Linked DNA regions of Homo sapiens: regions 2, 3 and 4 are each linked to region 1. Evidence: fine-mapped expression QTL. A gene starts in region 1. Each other region holds a variant in brackets. All regions are shown on one strand. Distances are from middle to middle.

What was found. PIP is the estimated chance that this variant, and not a neighbour inherited with it, causes the effect.
Region 2: its variant is the best candidate, but not a certain one, in a credible set for the expression of SMAD1 in whole blood (TOPMed, PIP 0.51).
Region 3: its variant is the best candidate, but not a certain one, in a credible set for the expression of SMAD1 in fibroblasts (GTEx, PIP 0.54).
Region 4: its variant is the best candidate, but not a certain one, in a credible set for the expression of SMAD1 in lung (GTEx, PIP 0.78).

Annotation. Positions count from the first base shown.
Region 1 is chr4:145,479,552-145,483,918 of GRCh38, forward strand. SMAD1 (SMAD family member 1) reads left to right here and starts at 2,302. Exons shown (of 7, transcript NM_005900.3): 1 at 2,302-2,487. RefSeq lists silencers at 2,071-2,200, 2,371-2,530, 2,871-2,930, 3,021-3,120.
Region 2 is chr4:145,449,250-145,453,616 of GRCh38, forward strand. No RefSeq gene overlaps it. Among named protein-coding and RNA genes, the nearest start is that of SMAD1, 30 kb to the right of the region's middle. The variant T/C (reference allele first, on the strand shown) is at 1,897.
Region 3 is chr4:145,424,893-145,429,259 of GRCh38, forward strand. No RefSeq gene overlaps it. Among named protein-coding and RNA genes, the nearest start is that of SMAD1, 55 kb to the right of the region's middle. The variant T/C (reference allele first, on the strand shown) is at 1,823.
Region 4 is chr4:145,349,345-145,353,711 of GRCh38, forward strand. No RefSeq gene overlaps it. Among named protein-coding and RNA genes, the nearest start is that of LINC02266, 11 kb to the left of the region's middle. The variant A/G (reference allele first, on the strand shown) is at 1,873.

The DNA of each region.
Region 1 (4,367 bases):
GAGGATGCCAGTGTGACTTGGGGAAGTGAGCAAGAGGAAGAGTAGAAGTGCAGGTCAGAGTGCTAAAGGAGGGGAAGGAAAGATTATGTAGAGTCTTGTGCTTATTATGGGAACTTTTATTCTGAGTGAAATGAGGACCCAAGGGAGGATTTTTTAAAAATTTAATAAAATGATATTAATATACAGTCCATATTTAGGTTTTTATAATGGTCTCATCAATGTCCTTTTAAAAAGAATATCCAAATTTTTATTATCATTTAAGGAAATAATTTGCACAATGGGCAAAATCAAATTTTATTGCATACATAATAATATTAATAGTTATCATTTAAGACTACTAGGACTGCACTAAGAAAGGCCATCTAGGCTGGGCGCGGTGGGTCATGCCTGTAATCCCAGAACTTTGAGAGGCTGAGACGGGTGGATCACTTGAGGCCAGGAGTTTGAGACCAGCCTGGCCAAAATGGTGAAACCCCGTCTCTACTTAGATGGGCGTGGTGGTGTGTATCTGTAGTCCCAGCTACTCGAGAGGTTGAGGCAAGAGAATTGCTTGAACCCGGGAGGCAGAGGTTGCAGTAAGCCGAGATCGTGCCATTGCACTCCAGCCTGGGCGACCGAGCGAGACTCCGTCTCAAAATTAAATAAATGCCATTTTTGATTTTTTTAAAAATTAACGACTTTAAAATGACAGTTTATAGCTCCTCCTCCCCATTCAGGATCCAATCAAGGTCATATACTGCATTTCATTGTCATGCTTTTTTTTTAATAGCTTGAGGTAAAATTCACATACCAAATGATTGACCCATTTAAAGTGTGCAATTTAATGGCTTTTGGTATATGCACAGAGTTGTGCAACCATCACCAGAAACTAGTTTTAGAACAATTTTGTCACCCCATAACCTTTAGCTGTCACTCCCCAGGTTCCTCATTTCCCCAACCCTATGCAAACCACCAATCTACTTTCTGTCTCCATAGCCTTGCCTACTCTGAGCATTTCACATATGTGGAAGAATACAATGTGTGGTCTGTCTTCTTTCCCTTCACGTTTTGAAAGGTTATCCATGTAGCATGCATCAGTATCAGTACTTCATTCCTTTTTATGGCTGAATAATGTTCTCTTGTATGGGATACTTTATACTATTTATCAAGGGAGGGTTTTCAACAGAGGAGTGGCCTGATCCGAGTGGCATTTAACAAGGTTCACTTTCCTGTTGTTCTAAGGAGCAGAGAATGATCAACTGCGTCAAACGCTGCTTTTAGGGAAAATAAGATGAGGCCCACGAATTGACCAGTAAGTGCTCAAATAGGTTAAGGGAAAAAGGAATTTAATTAGAAGACATATTCTGATATACATTGCTGGGAGTGATTTTTTTTTTTTTTTTTTTGCTTCATGTGAAATTTATTCCTCAAAAAAAAATCATTTTTTCTAAACGTAACTCAACATTATAGTAATTATGCAAGATTTTATGCAGCTTCAAGAGTTAGCCAAGAGAAAAGTTGACTCTTGCAAGAAGATATTTTCAATGTCTATGCAGATCAGGTAGGTAAGAGTTAAGTGCGGGGGAGTTGGCATCATCTAAAAGACTGTAGAAATTGGACCAAAAATGTGGAGTTCTAAAGCAGTATCTCCTTATGGCATGCCATTATTTGGAGCAACAAGGTTACCTACTCGAATCACTGGATCCTGAGTTGACACAAAACGCATCTGTTGACTCAGGGTTTGTATAACCACGTGCAGTATTTACTAGGCTATCCAATTCTGGGTACGTACAACTTCTGGGGCCTGCAAATTATTGGAGAGTGAGTGAGGGGCAACGAAAGATAGACATAAAAGGGCGCGTCTCGAAAGGTAACTGTCAACATGCACTCCACGTTTATAGAACGATTCAGTGGGCGCGGTGGAAGCGTTAATGAACATTTCAGAAAATAAACATATGGAACATCGAAATTCACTTGCAGATAATGGACTAAGTCCGCTCCACCGGGACTAAAAAGGCAGGGTTAGGAAAGCCTGAACGCCGCCACACTGTTTTTTCTCCAGGAAGAAACGGGGCGTGGGGCTGCCGGTAGAAGGGGGTGGCTCCGGCCGCTCCCCCGCGCCGTCCTCCGGCCCCGGCCGCGCTGCGCTCACGCCGGCCGGGCCGGGAATTTGGAGAGGATCCCTGGTCGCGCGGCAGCGGCGGCGGCGCGCGGGTGAGCGGGTGAGCGTGTGAGCGGGCGGGCGGGCAGGCGAGTGCGCCGGGTATTGGCAGCTGAGGAGTGGAGGCTGGGCAGCTCCGACTCCCTGACGCCAGCGCGACCAGATCAATCCAGGCTCCAGGAGAAAGCAGGCGGGCGGGCGGAGAAAGGAGAGGCCGAGCGGCTCAACCCGGGCCGAGGCTCGGGGAGCGGAGAGTGGCGCAGCGCCCGGCCGTCCGGACCCGGGCCGCGAGACCCCGCTCGCCCGGCCACTCGTGCTCCCACACGGACGGGCGCGCCGCCAACCCGGTAAAACGAAACAGACCCGAACCGAACTTTCCCTTCATGCCGCGTCCCAGCCCTCCCCTCGGCGCCCCGGGCTTTCCAGCGCCGCCGCCGCCGTCTCTGCACGCGTGGGGCCGCCGCGGTCGTGCTGGGCTGGGGGCGCGGGCAGCGGCGGGAAGGGGGCTCTTTCTGCGCGGGGCGGGCCGCGACCCCCCCCCCCCATGATGGCGCCTCCCGTCTGCTCGGAGGAGCGAACCTGCTACCACGTCTTCTCGCGCCCAGCCCGCCGGGCTCCCCTGGTGTCTTTGTTGGGTCTTCTGCTGTGGGAAGCCCAGTTCCCGGGCCCCCGAGCCTCGGCTCCCGGGCCTGACCGCGCTGGGATCTCCCCGGCCGCGCTCCCCTTCCGCGCGCTCCTCACATCTCTCCCGTGCTGCCGCCGGGCCGAGGCCCGTTCGCGTGGCCCGCGGACCCATTGTGTCCCCCGCGCCGGCGGGGCGACCCCTGCGGGAGCTGGAGGACGACCGCTGGCGCTGCTCTCCAAGGCGCCTGGTGGAGCGGGTCTCGCGGGCGGGGGACCCCGGCGCCCCGGGCCCCTCCACATCCCGCACGGGTTTTCTTCTCGGCCCCAGCAAGCCTCTTTGGGGTCGAGGTCAAGGAAAGTTCGCACCGAGATCCCCTCTAATTTATTCAAAGGTTTGGCGGCGGCGCGTAATTTTTTCCCCCTCTTCCGCCTACACCCGCTGCGTCTCCTGGTGTCTCGTTCCTTTCCCTTTACCGGAGTCGATTGCCTCACTGCATGTGTATTCGTGAGTTCGCGGTTGAACAACTGTTCCTTTACTCTGCTCCCTGTCTTTGTTAGTGTTTCTCGGGGTTGTTTCTGTAGGAAGGTGGGGGTGGTGGGCGTGAGAGACAGATGTGGGCTTGTTTTTCTAGTTGCTGAAACTGTATGAAGGCTTTAAAGGGAGAACGTTTTCTTGATGTGCTTTAGGAGGGGAGGAGGAACAAATGCCTGCCAGATCTCACAGCTACAGTAGCTGAGCTTTTGTTTATTTTGAAGAGCATGCAATTTTTAAATACACGGTGCAAGATAACCAGTAAAGGCGCGTTCCTTCTGAAAATTGAGGCCGGTCTCAGAACCATCTCCTGAGAAAGCATCCTTTTCGTGAGTGCTGAGACAACTGTCCTTTTTCTCTGCCCTCCCCCCTCTTTTCTTTCCATTGTATCTGAAGTTTCAAAGTACGTGGAATGATACAGAAGTTGCATGATTTCTGTTATTTCTTCCTGTTGCTGAAACTCTCAGCCGCTAAATCTCAGAATGCCTCTATTTCAGAACATCTCTGGGTCTAATTGCCTGTTGTGGATAACTTGCCCACACCTCAGTAACACAATGAGAAAACTGTTCCCTGCCCATGTTGATTTTTCAAATTGTTTGTAATTACTTTAAATTGTATTGAAGGTAGGTGGACCGTGTTAAAAAAGAATCGGAACAGAAGTGTTCACTGCCCCAGCATTTTCAATTGGTATAAATATTGTTGCATCAGTGTTATTCTGATGTAGGTGCCAGATCTAAATATGCTGTACTGATTAAAGTGTTTGTTCTGCCCTCTCCCACTCTCTTTCCCATTTGCAATTATTTGCTATTTCTGTGCAGGTGGTGTATCATTGGTGTAATACTGCAGTTCTTAGGAAGGTGTAGCTAGGGTCGTGAGAGATGATTTTTCTGGAGGTGGGTGATGCCAGAGCCTCTAGAGGATCCAGGCAGGATCGAGTTTCTTCTGAGGGTAGGGATTTGTCCTTGATTTAGTTTTGACCCCTACAACCATAGGTATGTAACCAAATACATTTTACCTCTTGCAGTATCCTTTGGTTTCGTATCCTTGAAGAGCTGATGACCTTTGTGTTTT
Region 2 (4,367 bases), 30 kb before region 1:
AAATGACCAATATGTTACCTAGGTGACCAAAAGAGTGGCAGTACCATTAACAAAAATAAAAAATCAAGCGGATGAGTTTTAAGTTTTGAGCTGTTAATGCTGAAGTAAAATTGTGACTATGACCTGCAGAGAGTTGGAAGTGTGGGACTAGAATTTAAGAAAGGTTAGTTTATGTTGGACAGATGGAGTTAGATGGTGTTTGAGGTTTGGGGAGCTGAAAAATTCCCCAAAGAGATGGAGGGGGTGTGGGCTGGAGAAAGAGAAGGGGAACAAGAGACCCCATAGAGGTCAGTAGGGGAGGTGCCAATCCTAAAGGTACAATTAGCACTACGATTTTGCAATGCCTCTGAAGCCAGGAAGAGTGCTTCTAGAAGGAGAAAGAAGAGTTAATGGTACCCAGAAGCCCATAGGGGTAGGAGCTAAAATAATTTCCGTGATGTCTCAGGAATCTTCAAATATAATTTTATTGGAGTAGTGTATGTGAGTCAGATTTCAGAGGGCTAAGGAATGAGTGTGGATTGGGAAACTCCAAAAAGAAGTTTGACCATAAGAAAATAGAGCAAGAGAAAATGGTAACCAACCCAGAGAATGGATAAACTCTGAGGATGAAAACATGCAGGGAAAGAAAAAAAAAATCCTAGAAAAACTTACTGTTTGGAGTCAGAAAGAGGAAGCCTGAAAAAGGGGAAGGATTGGTTTGTGCCCAGGAAAACTAGATTGGCTAGAATGGGCGTTGGGGGGGGGGGGGGGGGGGCGCGGAAATAACAGGTAATGATGTCCAAGGCAGCAGAAGGTGTCTAGGAACACCTTGGAAATATCAGGATCAGATATGCCCGGATTCCATTCCTGCCAAAAATAAAACATGAAAAGCTTATATGCATAGAAAACTCCTGGAGGTTTTATAATAGTAAACTTTCACAAGTGGTTTCCTCTGAAAAGTAGGACTCATGGAGATTTCTTTTTTGTATTTATTCTTCTGTATAATTGGAGTTTGAAATTTTTAAGATCATGAATATGTGTTTATTTATAATTTAAAATATTCAAATTTTTAACAACCTGTGTCAAGTTCAAAATTTTAAACAATTTGATCTTGATGAATTGGAAGGAAAAATTGAAGAAGGTATCTCTTACTATATATGTACACTTCAGAATTTCTTCATGTGCATAAACTTCTTTTATAATTTAAAAAATTATAAGAGAATATATTGTCATAAGGAAGAAAAATAAATAGTTGGCACTGTGTTCTATAACATTCACCTTTTAGTTCTGGGCAGGAAGATATAAAGTTCCTGCCCTCAGAGAGTAAAGAGACAGGACATGATGCAAAATAGCTTCTAAATCCCAGCCCAGTGTACAGAGTAAAAACATCGAGGGACAAATTAAAAGAATTAACTCTAAAACTACATCTAAAGCCTTTAAGGTGCCTGTCATATGGGAGGCACTCAATAAATATTAGTTATTATGATTTGTCAAGTTATATTCATATTTAGTATATTATAAAATATAAATGTAGTAGCCTTAGGCCTCTAATAATTCCATTAATATTTACAGAACACAATGCCTGCACATGTGCCAGAGATGAGAAAATGAATGAGATATTATCCTTTCCTTAAAAGCTAATTGGCAAACAAAATATAAAAAGATATATAATAATGCAGGTCAGTGTATGCTGTGTTCCAAATATGTGATCCAGACAAAAGTGGTTCTGCAATTTGAAGACGAGAAAAATCACAGAGGACAGGAGCAATTAGGAAAAGCTTGCAGAGATAAGACATGAATGGACCTTGGAGAATATGAAAGGAGAGAAAAGGGCATCCTGGGGGGAAAATGCAATGAACAGAGACTAGAAACAAAAAAGATGCGTGGTCTAAATATAATTTGTTATCCTAGATAGGA[T/C]CCTGAAACAGCGAAAGGACTGTAGTATGAAAACTGATGTTTAGTCAAAAGTAATATACCGACATTGTTTTCTTAACTTTCACAAATGTAGCATGATAATGTAAGATGTTAACTTTAGGGGAAACTGGATAAAGAGTAGACATATAGGAACTCTCTGTACCAACTTCATATTTTTTTCTGTACATCTAAAAATTATTCCAAATTAAAGTTTATCTTTAAAACTGTGCATGGTAAGTTCATGAACTAGTGAGTAAACAAATACAGCCAAAGCTCAGAATTTAGTTAGAAAGATAATGATAAATTAAGACGAACAGGTGGGTAAGTCCTAGATTGCAGAAGACTTTGAATGCCTGGCTAAAGATTTCTGATTTAATTCTGCAGTTCATGTAGTGTTATTGAAAGTAGCAGAACAATGAGGTGTTTGAAGGAGAAAGGAGCCTTCAAATAGGTGGCCCAGGAAATCTTATGTCACCATCATCATTGACTTTCATTTGTCCAACATCATGTTTTCTAAAAGCCACCACAAATGGCACACTAACATATTCTCATTCATATTTTCCTCAGTTATTAAAATGCTAATGTTTAGTAAAAATACCATGTGATGGGAGAGAAGCAAACAATGTAGCCCTCCCCTCATGAATAATGAAGCCCTACGTAATGATGACTTGGTCTCACTCAACATCCATAGTGCTAGAAGCAGACCTTTCTCTATGAAAAGTTAGTGTTGTCATGAGCTTCCATTTCTTTTACTGTCAGCCAAAAACAGTTCCCTGAAGCATATTGCTTCACTGTAGGAAAATCATTTCAAAGACCCTCCAAGTTGTGAAAATGTAAGGCAAACAGACAATCTTTGCCTGTGAGAGTTTGTGTGTAGGTGTAGGTGTCCAAAATGAGCATGTGTCTGTTGCTTAACAACATCTGGCTTTCTCCTTTGCATGCAACAGGGAGATTCATTGTTGGGGTATGCCGAGGTAGTCCAGTGGCAGGAAGAGATGCTAAGACAGACCAAAGAAGGATTTATGGAGAAGACTTATGTGCTCCAGCATGACAAGAGGCTGGGATTGAGTTCTTTTCTAGCTTTGGCCCACCTGGCTTGGTGCTAAGCATTGAAGGGAAAAAATTGATGAGTGTGTGAATGTGACCTAAAATAGATGTGGTCTCAGAGCTCCAGAGGGACACTGGCAGGGTGATGGGAAGAAGAGAGCTGAATCAGTAGGAGCATCACAGCAGCCACAAACAAATGTCCTGATATCAGAATGTGCGGGACCCATCTTTAACCTCATGTGACAGAGACCAAGCCAAGGTGTTAGTGGATTGTTCATACTTCCCAGATTTCTCTCTCGTCCTGGCTTTTTGCAGGACTGATCGCCTTTGAACTGAGTAAGTTCCTAGTGTTCTTACCCAAGCAGGCTGGCTGAGGGAGGCCTTAGGAAATAAGTGGACTTCCTATCACTAAGGGCAGGTAATAAATTGAATAAATAAATATGAGGCAATTGTGTTTGTATTCCAAGCTAGCAAAGTGGATCATTCCAGATACACTATTGATGTGAATTTCTACAAAGTGAGTCATTTCCCCTATGGTCTTTTTTAACATTTCTTAAATGTATTCCCACAACACCTGCAGTTCAGTGCACTGTTTTTGAGAATGTAAGAAGCAGAGTGCACAACCTACCTATGAGAAAAATGGACCCAGAGGACAGGAATGAGAGCTTCGTGAAGAGGAAACCTGCATGTACTAGTCTGATTCTTTTTTCCGCTTGTTTAGGACACACTACCATGCTGCCTGTTTGAAGCCATCTCACAGGATATTTGCAAGAGCCACTGGGATGTTAGTTCCATGAAAGGAAGAGTTCTGTGTTGCTTATTGACCTATACCAGGGCCTGGTAGATGCTCAGTAAATATTTACTGAACAAACCGATGAATCTAGTGAACTAAGGGACATCAGAATATCTAAATACTGCAAAGTAGGATTGAAGACTGATGATGGTTAATGTCTGTCCACCAAAAACACTATTAGGGAGGGAGAAATTTTCTGGGAGAAGATTGTCAAGAGGAAAGAATACATTAATACAAATACACAGGGGAGAAAGCTTCTGTAATGGAGGGCTCCAGTCTAAGTCCCTTTAAGCTAAATTGAGCCAAGAGCATTGCCTTACTGATGAGTATTCCTTTGTAGAGGAAATAGAGATCTTTGAGAAGTGGAAGTAAATCTCAATTTTCTGGGCCTAATGCCAGATATTCTAGCACATTAAAGATGACAGACAAAGGAGATGACACCTTAAGATTTATTCCAGATTGTATATTTTCCTCCATTTGTGGGTTAGATTGTATATTTTTCTCCTTTTGTGGGTTGAGAAAGTAATAGAGAATGTGGGGAAAGAAGTTTTCTGCTGTTCTCTCTATAATTTTAGGAGCTACAGTATCTGGGAAGCTTGAGGTCTAACTAATCCTGTGATATCTAGACTAAGTG
Region 3 (4,367 bases), 55 kb before region 1:
TAAAGACTTTTTCAGAGTGTCACCCTGCTGTTTTGGCTCACATTTTTTAACGAGAAGGCTACTGTTTGTTATGTTTATCTTTTGATATAGGCTAAATTTTACACACACACACACACACACACTGTACCCCCAAATTAATATGTTGAAGCCCTAAACCCCAATGTGGCTGTATTTGGAGACAGGGCTTTTAGGAAGTAAATAAGATTAAATGAGGTCATAAGAGCAGAGTTTGAATTTTATAGGATTGGTGGCCTTGTAAAAAGAAAAAGAGAGATATGTCTCTCTCTCTCTTTATCTCTCTCTCTCTCTGTGTGTGTGTGTGTGTGTGTGTGTGTGTGTGTCTCCATGTATACACACTAAGGAAGGGCCATGTAAGGTCACAGCAAGAAGGCAACCATCTACAAACCAGATAGAGAGCTTTCATCAGAACCTGACCAAAATTCCTTTGTTATTATTATTGCTTAAATAAATTTCTGCTGTTTAAGCCACCTATTATGTGGTATTTTATTAGGCAGCCTGAGCTGACTAATACATCTTTACTTTTCCATATGTAATATTTCTGTTTCACTTTTAAGATTTACTCTTTATTACTAGGTTGCAGCATTTGGTCGTGCTGTGCTTTTGTGTTGTTTCTTTCATGTTTTCTGCTTGGGGTTTGTTGAGCTTCTTGAATCTGTGGGTTTATCATTTTCATCAAATTTATCAAATTCATCAAATTTAGAAAGTTGTGACCATTAATTTTTTCAAGTAATTTTTCTTCCCTCCCCAACCTACCTTTTCTGGTACTCCAATTATAAATATATTAGGCCGCGCATGGTGGTTTATGCCTGTAAGCCCAGCACGTTGGGAGCCGGAGGCAGGTGGATTGCTTGTGTACAAGAGTTTGAGACCAGCCTGGGCAATCTGGTGAAACCCTGTCTCTACAAAAACTGCAAAACTTATATTTTGTCCAGCTTTATATTTGTTTAAAGATGGGGAAGTAAATCTGATTCTTATTATTCCATCATGTTAAGGAGGTAGAGACTTTAATGTTGTTTGAACAACTGTTGAAGAGTTGTTTTATGTATCTGAAGTATGGGAAATAATTAATCAACTAGGAAAATATTAGAACTTATTATTAAGTTAATTCCAACTGGGTCAAACTGTTGTTTGATACAATTAGGCAAAAGATATAATTTTATTATTAGAAAACAAAAATTGACTGTGTCTTGAAGGTTCCAAATTTTTGTCTTAAATACAATAAGATGTTTTTATATCAACCATTTTTTTCCTGTTTCTATACCACCACAGTCACTAAATTTGCATAAAATGTTTGGCAGTTTCTACGACTGTACTCCTGCGTGCTATGCCTGCACTACTGGAAGAAGTTTTGATGTTAGCTACTAGACGTTTAGATCTTCACTTGCAAATATCTAGCATAGTTTCCTTGCTCAAATCCCACAGATAGAATTTCCTTTCTCTAGGCTGGATGCAGTCGTTCATGACTGTAATCCCAACACTGCGAGGCTGAAGCAGGCAGATTTTTGAGGCCAGGAGTCCAAGACCAGCCTGGTCAACATGGTGAAACCCCATCACTACTTAAAAAAAAAAATTAGCCAGATGTGGTGGCACATGCCTGTAATCCCAGCCACTTGGGAGGCTGAGGCATGAGAATTATTTGAATCTGGGAGGTAGAGGTTGCAGTGAGCTGAGATCACGCCATTGCACTCCAGCCTGGGTGACAGAGCAAGACTCTGTCTCAATTAAAAAAAAAAGAAAAGAAAAAAGAAGAATTTCCTATCTTCAGTTAGTATCTAGTAAATGCTTAACACTTCTAAGCATA[T/C]CTTCAAACTGATAAGTGAAAACAGAGCTGTAAAAATCTCCTTTTGCACAAAGCACTATTATTTAGTTATTTTAGATGAAAGCATTTGTGTATTGTTATATGGCAACTTCTTTGGGGAAAGCAGCATGTCTTGTACATATAGCTATATCCACAGAGACTATGCTGAGCATATAGTGAGTGCTGCAAACATTTATAGAAATCAGTGAACAGATTGCTGTTTACACTCAAAAGATACTCAATGATCTTTGATAATAATTTACCAATAAGTCTCAGAGCCTGTTAATTCTTGCATTTTCAGCTGAGCATCCAGAAAGTTGAGAGAATAAAAATGATGAAGTACAGCCTGAGTATAATTAAGGATTATAATTAATATCTGTTGTTCAGAAGCCCTTATACAGTGGTCTATTAAAGTCTGGATACAAAAATCTAAAAAGACTGGATTGCTGGCATCAGACTGAATTCCTAGAAGTGAATTTTTAACCTTAAAGATAAAACTTGATTCTGGGGGCATGTATTTTTATGGTACCATAATTTAACCTATCTTAATTAAGATTATATTCCATTAGCTATATTTTTTCTTATATATTTTGTCACTCATTTTGCAATTTCATAGTTAAATATTACAAAAGAAAAGTTGTAAACATTTTGGCTGCCTTTAAATGTTTGCTGAACTTTGCTTGTCAGCAGCTGGTCACTGCTATGTACTGTCTGTCTTTTTAACCAAGCCCAAATTGGAAAGAAAATAACAGATGATCAGTTAATTATTTTTCTGTGTGTATGTGTGTTTAGCTGTCTTTCAAAGGCATCGACCATAAGCATTGCTTATTGGTAGTCATCTTTTTTGGTTGCAAACTAATCGACTGGCAAAAATAAAATAGATCCTACACAAGGGATTTAGAAAATATTTTATAAAAAAGAATGCCAATAGCAATGCTTATAGGAACTAGACCATACATGTAGAACAAAGCATGTATTGTGTACTTTGGGAATAAACAATGAAGCTGTTAGCTATATGAATCTTAAATGATTACATTAATATGCTGGATGACTTGGGAAGTTGGACAATTGGTCTTTCACTTTTTGTATCTCTCTCTCTCTCTTTAACACCTCTATCGTTTTCAATGGTTTTTCACTTTTTAAAGCTTAGCTCTGTTATATACTCTAGGTCATAGGTATAAATGAATAGAATAATTTCTGTGTTCAATTTATTATAAGTTGTCTATAACATATATTTATAAAGGAAACTTTACATTTGATAACGTTTTATGTTTTACTTGAGGCACACAAGCTTGTTTAACCCGACTTATTTTGTTGTTTTTGTTCTGTTTTGTTTTGTTTTAGGCTTTTAACAGCCTGAAGCCATGGTTTTCTGTTTCTGTCTGGTGATAAGCTTAAAAGAGGGATGAGAAAGGGGATTTACTGGCCCAACCAGAAGCAGAAACTAAGAATCCATGACTGCATTCTCTCCCTTAGACACCCAATAGCTTCTTTCTCCTAGCAGGATAAATATCTTTGTAAATGCTAAGGCTATCTATGCAAATGTTTCACATTCTTCTTGACAACACTTACTCGATTAATTCCAAGATAGCACTTGTATATTTTTTTCCTTATTTCAAATACAGGGTAAAGGAAAAGCCTTCGCTATCAAAACATTGTATTATTTTCTCACAGCTCCAGCAATATCTGAGTTAAAAACTAAACAAGCAGTTTCAGATAGTACTTTATCAGAAAACAGTGAGGTTCTGCCATCAAGATATGTGATGCATAATGTAATTTTTTTTAATGAGAGAAAGATAGAGCAGAGGGTATTACCATTCCTCCACAGTCACACAGCAGTTCTAATTGGAATTAAACCCAGACATCTTGACATTCAGTATCTTTCTTGTATCATGGCAATAAATCTATGAATAGCTTTGTATTTATAAACCCAGATTCTACAGTTATATTACTTGAAGTAACTATTAAACATTTATTTATTCATTTTCAATGTTAGACAGTTGCATTAGTGTAATAATATCCAAAAAAGCATAAATAGTGCCTACATAACAGATTTTTAAATTAGTTTTCAAATTAGTATTCAAAGCAACTAACTATATTACAACTCAAAAGTACACTCAGCTATGATATTGATATAGGCAAAACTATCTGAGAAGAAGCCTCGATGATTTGCCGCTTGAATCACTACTTAAAAGAGAGGTAGAATCAAGGCTAAATGAGCTATGCCTGTAATATAATGAATTTTATGTCTTTTCTAGTAAGCATCAGATCGTACTCAGTTAGTGTTTGTCTCTTTAAAGTGAGTGCAACAGACTACATATTCATTTCAATGGATACCGCGATCACTTGGCAAAACTTTGGCACTCCTCCTTTGAAACTGTCTTTCAAAACTGCAACAAAAGCAGGACCAATATTCTCATCTTGCTTTTACCCCAAATGTAACTATCTAGATTAATCATTCACACACATATTTAATGTTTTTGACGGTTTTTCTTAATCATATCCATGTTAAAAGTTTTGCCACCATTGAGCACATTAAAAATAATGA
Region 4 (4,367 bases), 130 kb before region 1:
GCTAGGAGGTTTCCAGCATAATGCTGCCTTCTGTCTTATCACCCTCCCTGACTTTAAACCTGAGGTCAGCCTTTCCAAATCAGTGCGCCTCATTTCTAACGCTTGTTCTCTACTTGAAATGAAAGGAAGCAGAGTGATGTTAAGAACAACCTTGAGGAGGAAGAAGAAAGGGGAGAGAACAAGGGCATTGCTTTTGCAAGGGGAAGGAGACTCCCGTGTCAGTGCAAGGACTTGCATGTCCTGGAAAATCAATCTTGACTTCTTTGTTTGTTCATATGATTTTACCTTTTAAAATTTAGCAAATACTTTTTGAGTGTGCATTATATGCTGAGCACTATGACAAGCATCAAGGAAACAATGAATGAGATGGAGGCTGCCCACAAGATGTTCACAGCATAAAGGAGAAGAGAGAGAAAAACCACAAACTAAAACATGATCTTATAAGTACATATGCTGGCCGGGCATGGTGGCTCACACCTGTAATCCCAGCACTCTGGGATGCCTAGGTGGAAGGATCACTTGAGAGCAGGAGTTTTGAGACCAGCCTGCACAACATGGTGAAACCCCATCTCTACTAAAAATACAAAAATCAGCTGCGTGTGGTGGCTCATGTCCGTAATCCCAGCTACTCAGGAGGCTGAGGCAGGTGAATCGCATATACCTGGGAGACAGAAGCTTCAATGAGCTAAGATCAAGTCACTGCACTCCAGCCTGGATGACAGAGTGAGACCGCATCTCAAAAAAAAAAAGTACATATGCTGAAGAAAGCACATATGGATTGGGAACACAGAGGAAGGAACAATTAGGATAAGGGAACAGAGAAGTCATAGTGGATAAGATGTCACATTGAGAGGGACATGAAAGTTAAATTCATGAGAGGTGGAAAGGCATGTAAATCAGAGAGAAGTTATCAGCAAAGATCCTGAAGCATGAAAATGCCCAGATCCCTAACATCTGTCTTAAACCATTAGCCCACCCAAGACAGGACAAGGCCCTGCCACTTGAATGGAAGAAGCACACAGCCATGAGAACATTCTCAGGTTTACCTAACTTTTTTTTTTTTTTCAAACTTTCATGTTTTCAAACTAATTTTCAGCATCACATTGAAATTTCAGGGAAACAATTTCAGTACTTTCATTTAAGATTCTGCTTTAGTAATATTCACTAAATAATAGATAGTTGAGTCATTAATGATTTCCTAGTACTCCCCAATTTTGTGACTTGCTTTGCTGCTATTTGTGTTGGGTAATTCCTTACATGCTCCATAGGTTAGTAGTATCCGTGTCATTTTATAGATGAGGGAACAGGCATGGAAATTTGGAGACTTTTCTAAGTTTATAAGTATCAAATAAGAATCAAATTAATTATCTGACAATATGTTCCATTTAAGTATACAGAAAACTTGTGTGAATAAACTTTAAATGAAGAGTTAGAAAGCTGGATTTTCATTTCATTACTACTATAATCTCACTGAAGAAAATCTATTAACCTTTTGCAGCCTATTTTTGTCATTTGTAAAATGGAGTTAATAATACCTGCCTTGGATCCTCTTCTCATAAACCTTGAAAAGGTAAATGAGATAACTTTGATGTGATGCTTTGCATGCAGAAGCAGAGCACAAAATAAATACAAGGCATGGCTTTTATCACTAGCAGTTAAATGACCCAGCTAGGCCACAGCATCAAAGGGATACCATAACCATTTTTTAAAAAGAATAAGAGGTAGTTTCCGATATAAGTAACAAGAGGCGGGAAATTATTTTTATCAGCTGACTTTACCTATTTTAAAAGGAGAAATAAAAACATTAAATGTAGGATTATCATATGATCCAGCAATGTCACTTCTGGGTATATACCCAAAAGAAGTGAAAGC[A/G]GGGACTTGAACAGTTATTTGTAGACCACATTTTAGCAGCATTACTTACAATAGCCAAACGATGGAAACAACTCAAATGTCCATTGACACATGAATGGATAAATACAGTGTAATATAAACCACATTGGAATATATGATGCAATATCATTCACCGTTAAAATGAAAGCAGATTCTGATACATGTTACAACATGGATGAATCTTGAGGACATTATACTAAGTGAAAATGAAACAGTCACAAAAAGGCAGATGCTGTAGGATTCCACTTATATAAGGTACCTAGAGTAGCCATAGAGACAGAAAGTAGAATGTTGGCTGCCAGGAGGTCAGGGAGAGGAGAATGAGGGGTTATTGTTTAATGGGTATGGAGTTTTAATTTGGGGTGATGAAAAAATTCTGTAGATGGATGGTGGTGAGGGTGGCAGAACAATGTGAATGTACCTAATGCCACTGAACTGCATACTTAAAAATGGTTAAAATGCTAAATATTCTGTTATGTGTATTTTATCCCAATAATAATAATAATAATAAATCTAGCTCATAAAAAGGAGGAAGAGAACAAGCCCACACTCAACTCAGAGTTTAGAGATCTAAATTGGCTTCCAGCTTAATTTCACTGTTACATATCTTGGATAAGATACATAGGTTCTCCTCAGTTTTCATTTCTATTATATAAAGACAATAGTACCTTCTTTACATGTTGTAAGGATTAAATACACATAAAATATTCTATAAACTCTGACTTCTATACAATATAAAATATTGTATTCTATCTTACCAGTTTGGGAAGTGAACAATTTTAGAAGCAAAGAAACCTGAGATTCAAAGAAGGCTGTGAGTGGCAGAGCCTGGTCTGGGACTGAAGGTTCTTGCATCCACTCCAGCACAGCCTGCTGCCTTTCTTATTGCTTTGTTTTCTTAGGAAAGCAAAACAAAGTGAAGCCAGCCCCAAGTAGCCTACCACCACCATCTGACTTACTGGTCCTCATACAAATTCTTCTCAGGTTGGCAGTGCCGGGAATTTAATGATAGACTGAGGAGAAGAAACATTTCTTTCTGTGGGGACACTTGGAAAAAACTATCCTCTTGTTTATCTGGATTCTCTTTTATTTCATAAATCATGTCATTCATTCATCCCAGTTGACCTACCTCAGTTCATTTAATTTTTCATCCTGCAAAATGTTCTTAATGTCTTGGTTCCTAAGGAAAAAGTTTTGGGAGTGGAGAGGGGAAGATGTTCAGCCTTCTCAGTGCTGAGGCTGGGAGAAGGGCAGGGTTAAATGTGACCCATCACCTCTCGCTTTGGCCAGAACAGACCCCTGTCAGTTAGCCACAGGGCCAAGAGACTGCACAAAGCTCCACACCTGCACTCCTCATGTCCTTATCCCCATGGCAGTATAAGCCATATCACGTTTCATGTTCCAACTCATGTTCCAAAGGAGCAGCTCTCAATTTCTAGGGAGTCAGGGTAAAGTAGGGCATTTGGCACCAATGACAGATATAATTGTGTGTGTATGATACTCTTTTACTCATTAACAACGGCAACAGGAGCTGCTAAAAATCTTACAGAACAAGATTCATTTTTTTAAAAGAGTCTTTACAGATCCTGAGTCCATTTTGTGGAATCTCTGAGTGAACTTACACAAAGGATTTAAGTCTGTTTTCCCAGCACTGAATCTACATGGGTGAGGACCCAAGCCAGTCTGCTTAGAGACCTTGGAGATGAAAGGCCCAGCCAGGACAGCCAGCCAAACCCGCTGGAAGCTGGCCCTGCCACAAATGGAGCCAAAGGTTGGATTATTCCTGCTAGAATTTTCTTTTTCTGAAGGACTGGAATGTCATAGGAATAAGAAGTCCTGGTGAAGAAAAGTCACCTGTAACCTATGCCACCACTAAGCATTAATCATTATTTTCATCATCCTTGTGGCAAAATTGTCATTGGACATATGAGGATAGGTAATATACTAGATATTTACAAGTTGATACTGCCAACCAAAAATAAACAAACAACAACAAAATGGATTGCTGGGACTACAGACATGTACCACCATGCCCGGCTAATTTTTTTTGTATTTTTTGTTTTTGTTTTTGTTTTTTTTTTGTATTTTTAGTAGAGTCGGGGTTTCACCATGTTGACCAGGCTGGTGTCAAACTCCTGACCTCAAATGATCTGCCTGCTTTGGCCTCCCAAATTGCTGGGATTACAGGCGTGAGCCACCATGCCCGGCCTGTTGCACACTTCCTATGAGGCTGTATTGCCTAATAATCTGTCACTGTCTCCCATCACCCGCAGATGGGACTGTCTTGCTGCAGGAAAACAAGCCCAGGGCTCCCACTGATTCTGCATTATGGTGAGTTATATAATTATTTCATTATATATTACAATGTAATAATAACTAAAATAAAATGCACAATAAACTTAATGTACTCGAATCATCCTGAAACCATCCCCTGCCCCTCACTGATTCATGGAAAAATTGTCTTCTGTGAAACCACT